Regions from separate parts of the Homo sapiens genome. Here region 1 is linked to region 2. Evidence: fine-mapped expression QTL. Tissue or cell type: whole blood. Region 2 holds a variant in brackets; the other region holds the start of a gene. All regions are shown on one strand. Distances are between the middles of the regions.

Evidence for each region. PIP is the estimated chance that this variant, and not a neighbour inherited with it, causes the effect.
Region 1: PCED1B starts here. The variant in region 2 is fine-mapped to the expression of PCED1B in whole blood (INTERVAL, PIP above 0.99).

The regions. Positions count from the first base shown.
Region 1 is chr12:47,075,544-47,083,652 of GRCh38, reverse strand. PCED1B (PC-esterase domain containing 1B) reads right to left here and starts at 4,032. Exons shown (of 4, transcript NM_138371.3): 1 at 3,928-4,032. It overlaps AMIGO2 (adhesion molecule with Ig like domain 2), which reads left to right and starts at 3,694. Exons shown (of 3, transcript NM_001370299.1): 1 at 3,694-4,191; 2 at 4,405-4,511; 3 at 4,588-7,206. The coding sequence starts at 4,651. The coding sequence ends at 6,219.
Region 2 is chr12:47,209,302-47,217,410 of GRCh38, reverse strand. It overlaps PCED1B (PC-esterase domain containing 1B), which reads right to left. Exons shown (of 4, transcript NM_138371.3): 3 at 722-1,189. It overlaps PCED1B-AS1 (PCED1B antisense RNA 1), which reads left to right and starts at 968. Exons shown (of 3, transcript NR_026544.1): 1 at 968-1,027; 2 at 1,147-1,246; 3 at 6,650-8,109. The variant C/G (reference allele first, on the strand shown) is at 3,059.

The DNA of each region.
Region 1 (8,109 bases), 130 kb after region 2:
TATCTCCATATAATGAAAGACACAGGATGGGGTGAGAGATCTGGTTCTATAAAAAATCTTAGGCAATTTACAAAAACCAACTGGAGCAGGCCAAGAGAAGAACAGGATGCTGTAGGAGCTGAGTGCACTTCCATAGTTGTTGGGCAAAGGTATGTTTTTCTTGTGGGTTCAAGCTAAGTTACACTGTAAAAATCCTATTAAGAGTGCTGCCCGCCAGAGTGATGAAACTCCACAGGAAGCTCCTGCATGCAGCAATCAGTGACCCCAGTGAGCTCCATCTCCAAAGAACACCCAGTGTGCCTCACGCCGAAAAAAGAGGCAACAAGATATCTGCCAGTGTATAAATTCCACCTGACTACAGGACGCGTGGTAGAGTCAAAGGAGATAAAGAATGTGAAAGCCCTTCTTAGGACATAAAGTGCTATTGAAGTGTTAATTATTAGTAAAAATGACTTAGAATCATCAAACATGTGCTATTAATTTCTTGTCTCATATCTCTAATTACTTAAATCTTTGATTACAACCTGAGAAATTGTGGAAATTACAGGGCTAGAACTCCTGTGATTTCATCACCTCAAATTACTGCCTCAGGCAGATAGTATTTCCAAACCCAGCTAGACACTCACATGACCACACCCCCTTCTCAGCATACTAGATTCAGAATTATGTCAAGTGTCAAGCCACATTCTACTATCCCTTGGAGTCATTACTGAATGGTCAAAAATTCCAATGTATTATGTCATGTGGAAGAGGCCAGAGGAATATCTATCGCATCCTATTTTAAACTCCTGAGAAGGCAACTCAACCATCTGTCTTGGCAACCCATTCCAGGTTGGAACCACCCTGGCAGAAACGTCTCTCTTCTGTTTAATCTAAATCCTTCAAATAGAACCTTGAGATAATTGCATCCCATTTCATTTTCAAATAATTTGGAACACAGTTGTTTACCATCTGGGTTATAGGATTATATAATGTCACAGGGCTGTGGTGAGCAATAAATGAAATAATGCATGTAAAACGCATAGCTCAGTGTCTGGCATATAATAAAGGCTCAGTACATATTTATTATCACCATCATTACATGTGTTAGTACTCTGTCCGTCACAAGTGACATGCAACTCAAAATAATTTAAGCTAAAAAAGGGGGTGGGGTGGAAAATATAATTAAAAAGGAAGTAAAAGTATGCAGTGGCCTTCAGGTACTACCAGATCCAGGACTCAAATAACATTTACAGGACTCCTCTTTCTCTTTCTTCTCCTTTTTTTTAAGACAAGCTTTCAAAGCATAAAAGGCAGGACAGCAACCAGCAGATTCAGTTGGGGTAAACCGTTATCTTAACCACTTTGAATAGGTTCCCTGTTCATCAGTTCATTTATCAAAAATTTATTGAATGTGTTAAGCAGGGTTCTGAGAGCTGAGAATACAGCAATACACAAAACAGATAAAACTGCTATCCTCTTGGAATTTACCTTCTAGTGGAAAGAGGGAATCTGTTAGAAGGAGAAGGGATGCTAGAAAGATAAAAATGTTATCCTCCACAAAATAAGGTCACGTCTTATACCTTAAGATCAACTCTTATCTTTCTTTCCTCCCAGCTAGTAAACTCAATCCTTTTACAACGTTCTTCCCTTTCACAAACATGTGAAATCCCCCAAATCAGGTCTTCAAATGGATAAATAGCCTTGTCTATGGATTTTGAGTGCATTTAGTTTACTTTTGCTGTGTAATCTCTGCATAATGTTTCTACAATATGCCTGTAGTTATAATAATATAACCTTCCTGTTTCCATTTTTTTGAATCACTTATTCTTTTTAGACTATTTTTGCATTAAATACAGGTCTTTCTTCTGCCTTCATGGTTTCCTTAAAATACGATGTTAATTAGTAAAATCCTGCAAAAACCTGGTCATTTATTAGTCATTTAAAAAATATTCCTCTGAGCGATTTTAATTCTATTCCTCTGTATTAACTATTCTAACTCTATAAAATTGAAGTCCTGGAGACCAAGCTTTTGAGAATCCCAGGAAGTGTGGCCTAATACTAGAAAATCTCAACTTCTGCCTCTCCCCTTTAAGTACACAGTAAGAAATGCTTGCATGAAGCATTTTAGGCTGTGTTCTTATGATAAAATTCAACTTTCATGAAATAAATTAATCTGAATCAAGTTGTCCTCATCTGAAAATGCCTAGATTTATTAGTGCTAGCCCGGCTTTATTCCACAAACAATTCTATTTAAATTAGGTGTTGGTCTAACAAATCTGCCTGACCACAGCAATGACTCACGGACCATGTAGGAAACAACTTTCACTAAATTCAAGATTGCTCAAGTGAAAAGGTGCGCGGGGGAGGGGAGGAAGAGTTGGTTGTCCTCATCATTTTTATTTTTAAGTAATATTACAAGTTATCTATCCTGCCCCAACTGTTTCCTCAATTTGGTTGCTTTTCATTCCACTGTGGTTGGCATCTTTTGTCAAGGCAGTAATTTATTTCTTTTAATCCGGATATAATGGCCAAATGGGCGATCTGACTCACTCAAATCCCATCGTTAAAACTTATCTTGGAATTAAACAAAAATGGATTTTTAATCGTAGAGCTCATCAGCCTCATAGTCTCCACCTCATTTCTGAATGGCCTTGTTCGGCTTGCACCTTCTGTGCTTGCTGAACCAAAGCGCGCTGGTCGGCCGCGGCATCTCCGGAAGGGATGAAGAGCCTCCGCGCACACGCCCCTTACTTCCCTGTCCCGCACGCGCCACGAGCACGCTTGCAAAAGACGGGGAGGTGGCGGGGACAGAGACAGAGGAAATGAGAGAGAGAGAACGAAAGAGAAAGGAGAGAGAGGGAGAGAGAGAGGGAGAGAGAAGAGGGGAAGGAGAAGAGAGAAAAAAGAAAAAAAGGTCTGCTCTGGGATTATTATTATTATTTGGGTTAATACTCTTATCTTTGCATTCCAGCCGGAAGGTCGGCTCCAAGCCTTCTTTCCTGCCCTCCTCCTTCTTGAATTGGACACCATCCCTGTTGCCGCCTCCTGAGTCAGGAAAGGGATAGAACTTTCCCAGGGAGGTGAGGGGTGTCCCCGTGGCGATTTCCCGGTTACTTCCTCCCAGCAGATATCCCTGTGGAGAGGAAACGTTCCCGACTTCCCTCCCCGCGACCTCCTCCCTAGAAACGAGCGGAGACGTCAGGCTGCTTCTGGGTTTATTTTGTAAACCCAGACAGTCAACTGCACTTGGCGCAGGCAAAGCCTCCTTGGCCCTTGCCCCAAAGCAAAGCTCTAAGAGGTCCGGGGATTCCTTGGCCTGGGTGGGGAGAGAGACGTGACCTGTGCGGCCGCCGCGAAGTGGGTCTCCAAGGGTGAGACCCCTCCCTCGGTGGCTGGGCGTGTCCCCTTTAGCCTTCCTGGACCCCATTACCGCCCGGCTTGGAGCTGGACGAAGGGACGTAATTGGTAGGCGAGTGGGTTGGGCATCTTGACTCAAGGACCAGAGTCTGGGCCTCTGGTGTGGACCCCTGCCCCCTCCCCGCTCTGCGCGGCCGTTCTAGAGGTCCGGGTGGGAGCTGGAGGAGGAAAGCGGGAGGAGGCGGCGAGGCCGCGGGGCGGTATGAGGGGGCGCCGGCCGCCTCTCGGATTGGCTGCGCCGCCGCCCCCTCCGCATCGCGCGCCCCCCACCACGCGCCCAGCCTGCTCCCTCCCGCAGGCTCCGAGCTGCTGCCCGCAGGAGGCAGGACGCGCAGGGGTGGGACCGGCGCCCCAGCCCGTCTCCCGGCCCCGGGCGCGCGGGAACCCCGGGTCCTGCAGCCTCCCGAGTGCGGAGAGGCGGGGCCGCCCGCTGCCGCCCGGCTGCCTGCGCCCCCTCCCGCGGCCCCGGCTCTGGGAGCGGGGCGCCCCGCGCGCGGGCACACGGCGGCCAGAGCGCCGAGGCGGTACCTTCAGCCTGCAATGAGAGGAACCCGGGAGAGCCCCCGGGAGCCAGCGAAGAGCTTGGCTGCTGCGTCCAGGGCTGCTGCTGCCGCCGCGGCTGCTTGAAACTCCTCAAAGTTGAGAGCCGGCTAGAGGGTGCCGCCCGCCGGGAGCCGGAGGGAAAGGAAGTCGGAAGGTGCAAGAGTGACAGACACGGACAGACGGACGCGCAGACCTTCGGAAGGCACTGCGTAGGCAGCCTCCCCGGAGCCCACGAGGCTCCCCAGCACCGTGAGTTTTTTCCTGGATGGGTGGTTGCTAAGTATTTCCGTTTAATTGTTTGTAGCGTACGTTTGCGTATAGTTGTGTCTGTTGGAGGGAGTTTAAAACAACAACAACAACAACAACAACGCAGGATGCACCTTAGGAAAAAATTGAGTTTCTGATGGTGGGTGAGACGGTGGGTTGTATGGAGAGAATGTGACTGTACATTTTTATAAGCAGGACTAACCCAGGAAAGAGGAAAAAATACATTTAACAGTGAAGAGGCAACACAGAGCTCCCTATTGTGAAATAAAACCCATTTCAAAAGTTATTGGAAAGAAAGTAAGGTATGGCTCTTATGGGTTAACTAGTGGTAGTCAGTTTCTGCTTTTTACTCCCTCTGAATTATTAATTGTTTGCCAGGTTCACTGGTGGGAGGCTGAGCCGGTGGAAAAGACACCGGGAAGAGACTCAGAGGCGACCATAATGTCGTTACGTGTACACACTCTGCCCACCCTGCTTGGAGCCGTCGTCAGACCGGGCTGCAGGGAGCTGCTGTGTTTGCTGATGATCACAGTGACTGTGGGCCCTGGTGCCTCTGGGGTGTGCCCCACCGCTTGCATCTGTGCCACTGACATCGTCAGCTGCACCAACAAAAACCTGTCCAAGGTGCCTGGGAACCTTTTCAGACTGATTAAGAGACTGGACCTGAGTTATAACAGAATTGGGCTTCTGGATTCTGAGTGGATTCCAGTATCGTTTGCAAAGCTGAACACCCTAATTCTTCGTCATAACAACATCACCAGCATTTCCACGGGCAGTTTTTCCACAACTCCAAATTTGAAGTGTCTTGACTTATCGTCCAATAAGCTGAAGACGGTGAAAAATGCTGTATTCCAAGAGTTGAAGGTTCTGGAAGTGCTTCTGCTTTACAACAATCACATATCCTATCTCGATCCTTCAGCGTTTGGAGGGCTCTCCCAGTTGCAGAAACTCTACTTAAGTGGAAATTTTCTCACACAGTTTCCGATGGATTTGTATGTTGGAAGGTTCAAGCTGGCAGAACTGATGTTTTTAGATGTTTCTTATAACCGAATTCCTTCCATGCCAATGCACCACATAAATTTAGTGCCAGGAAAACAGCTGAGAGGCATCTACCTTCATGGAAACCCATTTGTCTGTGACTGTTCCCTGTACTCCTTGCTGGTCTTTTGGTATCGTAGGCACTTTAGCTCAGTGATGGATTTTAAGAACGATTACACCTGTCGCCTGTGGTCTGACTCCAGGCACTCGCGTCAGGTACTTCTGCTCCAGGATAGCTTTATGAATTGCTCTGACAGCATCATCAATGGTTCCTTTCGTGCGCTTGGCTTTATTCATGAGGCTCAGGTCGGGGAAAGACTGATGGTCCACTGTGACAGCAAGACAGGTAATGCAAATACGGATTTCATCTGGGTGGGTCCAGATAACAGACTGCTAGAGCCGGATAAAGAGATGGAAAACTTTTACGTGTTTCACAATGGAAGTCTGGTTATAGAAAGCCCTCGTTTTGAGGATGCTGGAGTGTATTCTTGTATCGCAATGAATAAGCAACGCCTGTTAAATGAAACTGTGGACGTCACAATAAATGTGAGCAATTTCACTGTAAGCAGATCCCATGCTCATGAGGCATTTAACACAGCTTTTACCACTCTTGCTGCTTGCGTGGCCAGTATCGTTTTGGTACTTTTGTACCTCTATCTGACTCCATGCCCCTGCAAGTGTAAAACCAAGAGACAGAAAAATATGCTACACCAAAGCAATGCCCATTCATCGATTCTCAGTCCTGGCCCCGCTAGTGATGCCTCCGCTGATGAACGGAAGGCAGGTGCAGGTAAAAGAGTGGTGTTTTTGGAACCCCTGAAGGATACTGCAGCAGGGCAGAACGGGAAAGTCAGGCTCTTTCCCAGCGAGGCAGTGATAGCTGAGGGCATCCTAAAGTCCACGAGGGGGAAATCTGACTCAGATTCAGTCAATTCAGTGTTTTCTGACACACCTTTTGTGGCGTCCACTTAATTTGTGCCTATATTTGTATGATGTCATAATTTAATCTGTTCATATTTAACTTTGTGTGTGGTCTGCAAAATAAACAGCAGGACAGAAATTGTGTTGTTTTGTTCTTTGAAATACAACCAAATTCTCTTAAAATGATTGGTAGGAAATGAGGTAAAGTACTTCAGTTCCTCAATGTGCCATAGAAAGATGGGGTTGTTTTCCAAAGTTTAAGTTCTAGATCACAATATCTTAGCTTTTAGCACTATTGGTAATTTCAGAGTAGGCCCAAAGGTGATATGACTCCCATTGTCCCTTTATTTAGGATATTGAAAGAAAAAATAAACTTTATGTATTAGTGTCCTTTAAAAATAGACTTTGCTAACTTACTAGTACCAGAGTTATTTTAAAGAAAAACACTAGTGTCCAATTTCATTTTTAAAAGATGTAGAAAGAAGAATCAAGCATCAATTAATTATAAAGCCTAAAGCAAAGTTAGATTTGGGGGTTATTCAGCCAAAATTACCGTTTTAGACCAGAATGAATAGACTACACTGATAAAATGTACTGGATAATGCCACATCCTATATGGTGTTATAGAAATAGTGCAAGGAAAGTACATTTGTTTGCCTGTCTTTTCATTTTGTACATTCTTCCCATTCTGTATTCTTGTACAAAAGATCTCATTGAAAATTTAAAGTCATCATAATTTGTTGCCATAAATATGTAAGTGTCAATACCAAAATGTCTGAGTAACTTCTTAAATCCCTGTTCTAGCAAACTAATATTGGTTCATGTGCTTGTGTATATGTAAATCTTAAATTATGTGAACTATTAAATAGACCCTACTGTACTGTGCTTTGGACATTTGAATTAATGTAAATATATGTAATCTGTGACTTGATATTTTGTTTTATTTGGCTATTTAAAAACATAAATCTAAAATGTCTTATGTTATCAGATTATGCTATTTTGTATAAAGCACCACTGATAGCAAATCTCTCTCCAAAATTCTTAAAGTTGATTTTTTTAAAGGGGGAGGGGAAGGCTTTAATGTGTTCTAGATCAATTTATACCTTCCGTATGACGTTTTACTCTGATATCATTGTGCACTTTAGCCAGATCCAGAAAACACTCAAATTTATTTTGCAACAAGTGAGAGCCCAGGAGACCTCCTTATTATCCTGTCTCTGCTTTGAGGCAATCAAGTACCCTCTCTGAACCTAGGTTCCCTCATCTGTAAAACAAAGGTTTCAGACCAGATGGTGTTTAAGGTTTCTCCCCATACTGGAATGAATGATTTCTTGGTGGTATTAGCATCATCACAGACCTATACTTGCTTTCTGAAACTCTACCACATACTGAAGGAATACAGGAATGGGATTAAGATGACTAGCATAGCAGTGTACAGCTTGAAGAGATGTTCCACATCATCACTCCAGCTCCTTCTCTTTTCTCAGGGACAAATGAGGCCCAGAGAGAATACGACCTGTGTAAGGTCAAACAGTGGCAGGGAAAGAAGGAGAGCTGGGGTTTAGCATTCTCCCTGGTGAAGATTGGAGGTCCAAAGAAATGACTCCTTTTTAAGGGATGGGCATAAAAAAGTGATCAAAACATTGCAAAGGAGAATCAAAGATTGATTGTCCTGGGGCTAAGAAAGAAGATAATTTTTAAAGAATGGGAGTGGGCAACAGTGAAAAATATTGCAGATAAGTAGATAAGGATAGAAGATCAACCACTGACTGGTAGTAATGGTTTTCTGTGAACAAATCAGAATAGTAATAGTAATAACGATAATCAGGGATGCATGGTGAGAGCTCCCTAAGTGCCATGTGGGGCTTTCAGTGGCAGACTGGGCAGCGGGAAGTTAAGGAACAAGTAGCCAGGAGGTGTCCTTTTAGGGAACAGTATGTA
Region 2 (8,109 bases):
TCTCTCTCTGTTTCTTTCTTGTCTCACTCTGTTGCCCAAGTTGGAATTCAGTGGCGAAATCATGGCTCACTGCAGCAACTCTGCAGGCTCAATCAATCCTCCCACTTCAGCCTCCCTAGTAGCTGGGACTACAGGCCTGTGCCACCATGCCTGGCTAATTTTTATAGTTTTTTTTAGAGACAGGGTTTCATCATGTTGTCCAGGCTGGTCTTGAACTTAGACTCAAATAATCCACCTGCCTCAGCCTTCCAAAGTGCTTGGATTACGGGTGTGGGCCACCGCACCTGGACTACATATTCTAATTTTCTCCATTTTATACTTTTAAAAATTAAGGCTAAAAGATTGAGTAATCTGCCCAAGGTCATCCATTTTATAAGAAGTAGTGCTGGAAGTAAAACCTGATGCCAAGCCTTTGTGGTCAACCACAACATACAAGATTGCAGACAACAGATGCCTCACGTCCCTTCTCCAGTTCACAACTAAATTGGCTGTTTTCTTTCACTGTCCATTTTAATAAATTTACAAGTTTATCAATCACTAATATTTTTGTTATTGCCAAGCACCAGTTGTCTCTTTAGTGTTACATGGGGTGGGCTGAAGGAGGCTAGGGTGCTGATTCCTGTCTACAGTAAGTGCCCAAAAAATGATGGTCTCAAGAAAGGCTGGTCAGAAATGCCAACTTAAAGTTTCAGATAAAATGGAAAAACTGAAAAGTACTTACTCATTAAAGTAACTGGTGATTTTTAAGCATCTCTCTCAGTTGATTCTAGATCTCGTCCCTAGATAGCTTTCTTCCTCTCCTGTAGATCATTGTGACCAGACGGGAGATCTCAGAGCTTGGGCTATAGGGGAAATAGGTTAGCCTCTGGGTGCTGCTGTGCTTGCAAGCCAGCGTCTGGGGAGAAGATGACATTTCCGGTGGCATCTGGGGCAAACGACACAAGTCAGCATTTAGTTTCTTGCTTTAGGAAGCGGAAGACTAATGACCGAAGCTTCAAGACTTTGACATGTGTGAAAACATGAAATGGTAAGTCAATACAAAGACAGCATCTTCCTGGAATTTGGTTTTGAGCTTGTTTTCATTTCACCTTTCTCAGTAATCTGGGTGTAGCTTATTTTGACTCTTCCTTTGATTAAACAATTCAGACCCTTGGCTCTTATTGTTCTTGCTGGTGTGGTATGTTCACGGCTGAAAAGATGGTCAGAAGGGGAAAGGAGGAAGTGAGAAGAAAGAAACAGGGAAATGGTAAGAAGAACTCTACTTTTCTAAATAATATTTAATAGTAGTAATCTTGTGTTTCTGTGCAAGGTGTTACAGTTTACAAACCGCTTTTATTTTTATTTATTTATTTTTTTTGAGACGGAGTTTTGGTCTTGTTGCCCAGGCTGGAGTGCAGTGGCATGGTCTCGGCTCATTGCAACCTCTGCCTCCCAGGTTCAAGCGATTCTCCTGCTTCAGGCTCCGAGTAGCTGTGACTACATGCACCCACCACCACACCCGGCTGATTTTGTATTTTTAGTAGAGATGGTGTTTCACCATGTTGGCCAGTCTGGTCTCGAACTCCTTACCTCAGGTGATCCACCCGCCTTGGCCTCCCAAAGTGCTGGGATTATAGGGGTGAGCCACCATGGCAGGCCACAAACCGCTTTTAAATCCTTTCACTTCATCTCTCCACTGACGTCTTGATGGAAAAATGGCTCAGTCCACACTACAGGAAACCACAGGCCTGAGCCCCAGCCTCAGCTAGATCCAGTATGTGGCAGAGCAAGATAAGAACTTTCTGCTTCCTCCCTTAGTGTTCCACTTGAAACCAGCAGGTAACTCAAGGGGACAGCGTGCTTAAAAGGGAGATGGTTCGTCTGGCGCTGTGGCTCATGCCTGTAATCCCAGCACTTTGGGAGGCCGAGGCGGGTGGATCACCTGAGGTCAGGAGTTCGAGACCAGCCTGGCCAACATGGTGCAACTCCGTCTCTACTGAAAATACAAAAATTAGCTGGGCGTGGTGGTGGGCCCCTGTAATCCCAGCTACTCGGGGGGCTGAGGCAGGAGAATCGCTTGAACCCAGGAGGCGGAGGTTGCAGTGAGCCAAAATCGTCCCATTGCACTCCAGTCAGGGTGACAAGAGCAAGACTCCATCTTTAAAAAAAAAAAAAGGGTGGGGGAGATGGTCTTCTGATTGATTAGATAAGTGTAGGCATTTGTTTTCTTTTGTCTGGAATAATATGATTTCGGGGAGAGGAATATCACTTTCCCTACAAATACCAAGATGAAAAAGAAAAGGAAATAATGAATCAGAAAAAAAAGAGAGAGAGAAAATGCATGACTACAGAAGGTCCCAGTGCATGACTACAGAAGATCAGAATATACCACCCCCAGGTTCCCGTAATCCCAGGTCCTTGGGAGGCTGAGGCAGGAGAATCGCTTCAACCCAGGAGGCGTAGGTTGCAGCAAGCCGAGATTGCGCCACTGCACCTCAGCCTGGGCAACAGCGAGACTCCATCTCAAAAATAAAAAATATGCCACCCCAAAATATAGTTATTTGGCATATTTCGAGCTGATTATTCTGAGCAACTGCAGACACAAGAGTATCTCTGAAAAGCTGTCCTTTTGTAAAATAAATTTATATTTATAAAAGAAATCTACATTAGTCAAAGTATCTGTATCAGGAAGAGTCCTGCTCTCAGACAACTTTTATTACCTGGGGGATTCCAGTGTGTGTGCATATAATTAAAAATGTTTTTTCCTTTTCTTTTCTTTTTTTTTGAATTGAGATTTGGTCTCAATATGTTGCCCAGGCTGGTCTTGAACTCGTGGGCTCAAGTGATCCTCCCACCTCAGCTTCCCAAAGTGCTGGGATCACAGGCATGAGCCACCGAGCCTGGCCAAAAATGTTTTTTTCTCCTGTTAATCTGTTTTATGTCAATTTAATTTGTATCCCAGCCAAAGAACCTAGAAGTAGGGAGGAAGCCATTTTCCCTCCCTTACAGCACAAAATAACTAACCAACAAGAGTAAGAGGTTTCACAACAGTCCTGAATTACATGCTCTGAAGACTTAG[C/G]TTTTTTTAATAGTATGCTATTTATGTAAACTGGATTATAATGTGACATAATTGTCTTTCCTTGAAAAATATCATTTTACTTTACATCACTGTCTATTCAGTGTGTGGCTTAAAATTAATTCCATACCTTATGCATTGTTTTCATCCTCTATGGCCATCAATAAAGTTATCTTGCAGTTCCCCATGAGTTTTAGTACAGTCATTACCGGGAAATTTAATAGAATCAAGGCAGAACCCAACTGATAGCTTTAGTATTTTATAATCCAGAGTAGTCTATTACATAACTTTGAAAAATCTGCCATTATTTAGTTCTAGCAATTCTATAAATGAATTGCAAATCTTTCTAGTTCTGTAGATTTCAGCTAGTCTGTGCACTGTGAGAATAAAAGGACAATCTCTGTAATCATCCCAAGACCAGAGAACAGAAGAGCTGTAATAATGCAAATGATAATCACACTTATACTCTTTAAACTTAAAATAAAGTTGAGATCAACAGATTTTCAACTGATTTTCTTGCTTTCAAGAACTTATTATGCTCTATGTAGACAGCTACTATTGCTATTCTGGCCCTATCTCATGTTTCAAAGCTCAGTGAGCCATCTTTTATTTTTTACCCACCAAACTTGGCTTTTTCTTAAACAGTAATGACAACTTATGCACATATAATGTTTTACCCTGTGAATGTGCTTTCACACACAGATATCCTTTACTATTAGCAGCTCATTAGTAGTTATAGCCACAGAGAAATTTAAACTTTGCTTTATGCAAGCCATTACCATTTTATCCACATTTTCTATCTTAAGGAACGCAATTATTTTTCTTATCTTCTTGGGAATCCTATAAGAGGGCCAGAAATCAGCCCATTAAATATATACATATATATACATTAATTTCAGCTGGCTCGTGTGTGTATGTGTTTAAATCTATTCCTGGGCTGCCTTAAACGAATGGGCCAAATTTGGCAAATCACAAAACTATGTTTTTTTCTTTGGTTGTCTGACTTAAACAGTCCACATATTTTTGATAATTTCTCTTCAAAGCACTCACAATTAGTACTTTCAAGCACATATGAATAATGAATAATTTGTTTCTATTAGGGTACGAAATCTTCTCTGATAACATATTAGGAACTTTGAGATTCTGGATTAAAACTTCTCATGAGTTCGATTTAGTAACAGAACTAAATTTTGCACGAAGTATGTGCAAACTTTGTGTTGATGAACAAGGCAATACTTATTGGGATTTGGGATGTTACAGATTGAGAAAAGCCAAATCAGTGATTTCACTATTCAGGATGGATGGAATGAGAAATGTGAATTTATAAAAGATCCCATTCTGTCAGGATTTCTTAAACATTTCCACAAAATTCTTAGAATTCTTATGTTTTATGCAAGTTCTGTATTCTGTTCCAATGCAGCCTAGTGGTTCAGAACATGGCCTTTGCAGGCAGAAAAGCCTGAGTTCAGAGTCCCAAATTAATAATCCACAAGCTGTGTGACTTTGGGAAAGGTACTCAACTCCTCTGGCCCACTTCCAGTTGTGAAGTTTAAACCTGCAAAGTGCTAAGCAGACTGCTTGGTACTTAGTAAATGCTCATTTTTGTTCCAGGGATTAGTATACATGCATCCATGCTTTAGTAATGCAAAATAATTCTTTAAATGACTAACCACTGGAAAAAAACGTAAATACTGACAAGTACCTTGTTTGATGGGCACTGTTCCATGGGCTGGTATGACACCATCACTGCAGGAATAGACTGCGCAAGTGGAGGGGAGATGACAGAAATCATCGTTAGGTCAAGTTGAAGCTCGGGGAGATTGAGCAACTGTCTGAATCACACAGGTTAACTACTGAGCTTGGACTAAAGACCAGGCTTCCTGGGTCCTGGACTCATAGTTCCAGAGCTATAGTTCATGAATTTTTTTCTCTAAGGCTGTAAGCTCTTTTTACAGAGAATAATTTAATGCCCTGCAAGAACTGGGTCTTACATTATTTAGCAATGTCCCTTACCTTTAAACCACAGGCTTAGTTTTCCAATTCCGGTCCTCTCTCCTTTTTTCTTTTTGTTTTTTGAGACAGAGTCTCTTGCTCTGTCACCTATGCTGGAGTGCAGTGGCATGATCTCAGCTCACTGAAACCTCCACCTCCGGGCTCAAGTGATCCTCACACCTCAGTCTCCCACCTACCCCCAGTAGCTGGGACCACAGGAGTGAGCCACCATGCCCTGCTAGTTTTTTGTATTTTTGGTAGAGATTGGGTTTTTTTTTTTTTTTTTTTTGAGACGGAGTCTCGCTCTGTCTCCCAGGCTGGAGTACAGTGGCACGATCTCGGCTCACTGCAAGCTCCGCCTCCCGGGTTCACGCCATTCTCCTGCCTCAGCCTCCCAAGTAGCTGGGACTACAGGCGCCCGCCACTACGCCCGGCTAATTTTTTGTATTTTTAGTAGAGACGGGGTTTCACCGTTTTAGCCGGGATGGTCTCGATCTCCTGACCTCGTGATCCGCCCGCCTCGGCCTCCCAAAGTGCTGGGATTACAGGCGTGAGCCACCGTGCCCAGCCGAGAGATTGGGTTTTACCTTGTTGCCCAGGCTGGCTTTGAACTTCTGGGCTCAAGTGATCCACCCGCCTCAGCCTCCCAAAGTGCTGGAATTACAGGCCTGAGCCACTGCGCCCAGTTTTTTTTTTTTTTTTTTTTTTTTGAGACAGAGTCTCACTCTGTTGCCCATAGTAGAGTGCAGTGGTGCGATCTTGGCTCATTGCAACCTCTGCCTCCCAGGTTCAAGCAGTTCTCCTGCCTCAGCCTCCTGAGTAGCTGGGATTATAGCCATGTGCCACTACACCTGGCTCCTTTTTTTTTTTTTAAAGTAGAGTTGGGGTTTCACCATGTTGGCCAGGCTGGTCTTGAACTCCTGGCCTCAAGTGATCCACATGCCTCAGCCTCCCAAAGTGCTGGGATTACAGGCGTGAGTCACCGCACCTGGCCATAAGGTTGTTTTGTCAAGGAAGATAGAAACAGCTTAATATTTTTGGATGTGTGCTGTTCTTCCTTTCTTACTTTATTAGATAAACATCCATCGAGTGCTCCTTCGGTCAGGCACAGTGCTTAGCACCTGAGATATGAGGTTGAGTAGGATATGGTCTTCTCTATGTTCTGTAGCTCACAGTGCAGGGAGGGAAAAACACAGAAGCAGATAACTAGAATTCAATGTTGGGAGTGCATTTATGGCTTTATGTTAGAGTATCACTTCTATTACTGAAAAGGGATTTTTAAAATTCTACTGAAAACATGAAAATGAAAATAGCGCCATGAAAAGTAGCTTCTAGTCATATTCTTTTATGATGAATATTTGCTTTGCATATACGATTGGCCCATATTGCATCATTTGTTTTATAAATTAATCGTATATCACTATTCCATTTTACCGGTAAAATAGTAGGCTTTTAAGTATTTTTCCCAATTATCACTTACAAAAATATTGTTACAGCTTACTTTTTTTGACCTTCCTTTTTCTTTTAGGGTGCTCTTTTCCTTAACATAGTTTGTTGTTGTGTCTCTGAAATATATTTATTTATTATTATTACTTTTTTCAGACAGAGTGTTGCTCAGTTACCCAGGCTGGAGTGCAATGGCATGATCTTGGCTCACTGCAGCCTCCACCTCCTGGGTTCAAGCGGTTCTCGTGCCTCAGTCTCCCAAGTAGCTGGGATTACAGGTATGCACCACCATGCCCAGCCAATTTTGTATTTTTAGTAGAGGCAGGGTTTCACCATGTTGGCTAAGCTGGTCTTGAACTCCTGACCTCAGGTGATCTACCTGCTTCAGCCTCTCAGAGTGCTGGGATTACAGGCATGAGCCACCAAGCCCGGCCTGAAATACATTTAAATAAATGAAGATGGAGAATCAGACATTACTTTCATTTATCTGAATCTGGTGTAGTTTAATTAATCTGTAATTGTAAGTCTTTGAATCATATGTCAATATTCTATTTTGTTAGTCATGATTTCTAAGTGTTACATAACTGTGGCCCCAGCCACTTTATATTTTGGTATCATGACAGAAGACTCTGATTGTGGTTATTTTCTACCTATGCATTTATTCTTAGTGATATATGTTGGTTAAATTATGGCATAGTTTTAAAATACATGACAAAAATAGCTAACAGTAAAGAAATGTCTTTGTTTCTGGTTGAATAAACTGACCACGCAAGGTTCCAATTTAAAATAAATTCTAAACGAATCATGTTATTTTCCAAAACTGTTCCTCCTCTCAGTAAATGAAATCAATATCCACCCGGTTACCCCAAGACAGAAATCTCAAGATCATCTGTGACTCCTTCCTCTTCATCTGCCACAAGAAGAGTAGCTTCTATCTCCAAAGCTAGTCTCTGATCAGTCTACTTCTCTTCCTATAGCCTCTGCTTTAGTTCAAATCTAGAATCCTGCTGTGGTGGTGCTGTGGCTTCCAAGTTCATCTTCTTCCAATCCGTTCTCTAAACTACAGTCTTGCTCTTTCTAAGACTCAGATCTTATAATTTTACTTCCCTTCATAGGTTGAATTTAACCTGCTAAATCACATAAAATTTTTCTGAAGATACCAGCCTTTCTGCCTTAATCAAACACATTAGCCAAATCCATAGCATTACTGGGATAAAGCCTGAAGATCCCAAATTGATAAGGCATCTGGATTCCCTTTGATAACAGTATTCAATAACAATGAACACCTACTGAGTATACTATTCCAAGCATTTAAAGTGTATCAACTCTTTTCACAAAATCAACAATAATTATTATTGCTACCATTTATTGAGAGTCTACTTTAATCCAGGTGTTACATATTCATGTATTCATTATTATTACCTTTTTTTTTGAGACGAAATCTTGCTCTGTTGCCCAGGCTGGAGTGCGATGGCATGATCTTGGCTCACGGCAAACTCCGCCTCCCTGGTTCAAGTGATTCTCCTGCCTCAGCCTCCCGAGTAGCCGGGATTACAGGCATGTGCCACCATGCCCCGTTGGCCAGGCTGGTCTCGAACACCTTACCTCAGGTGATC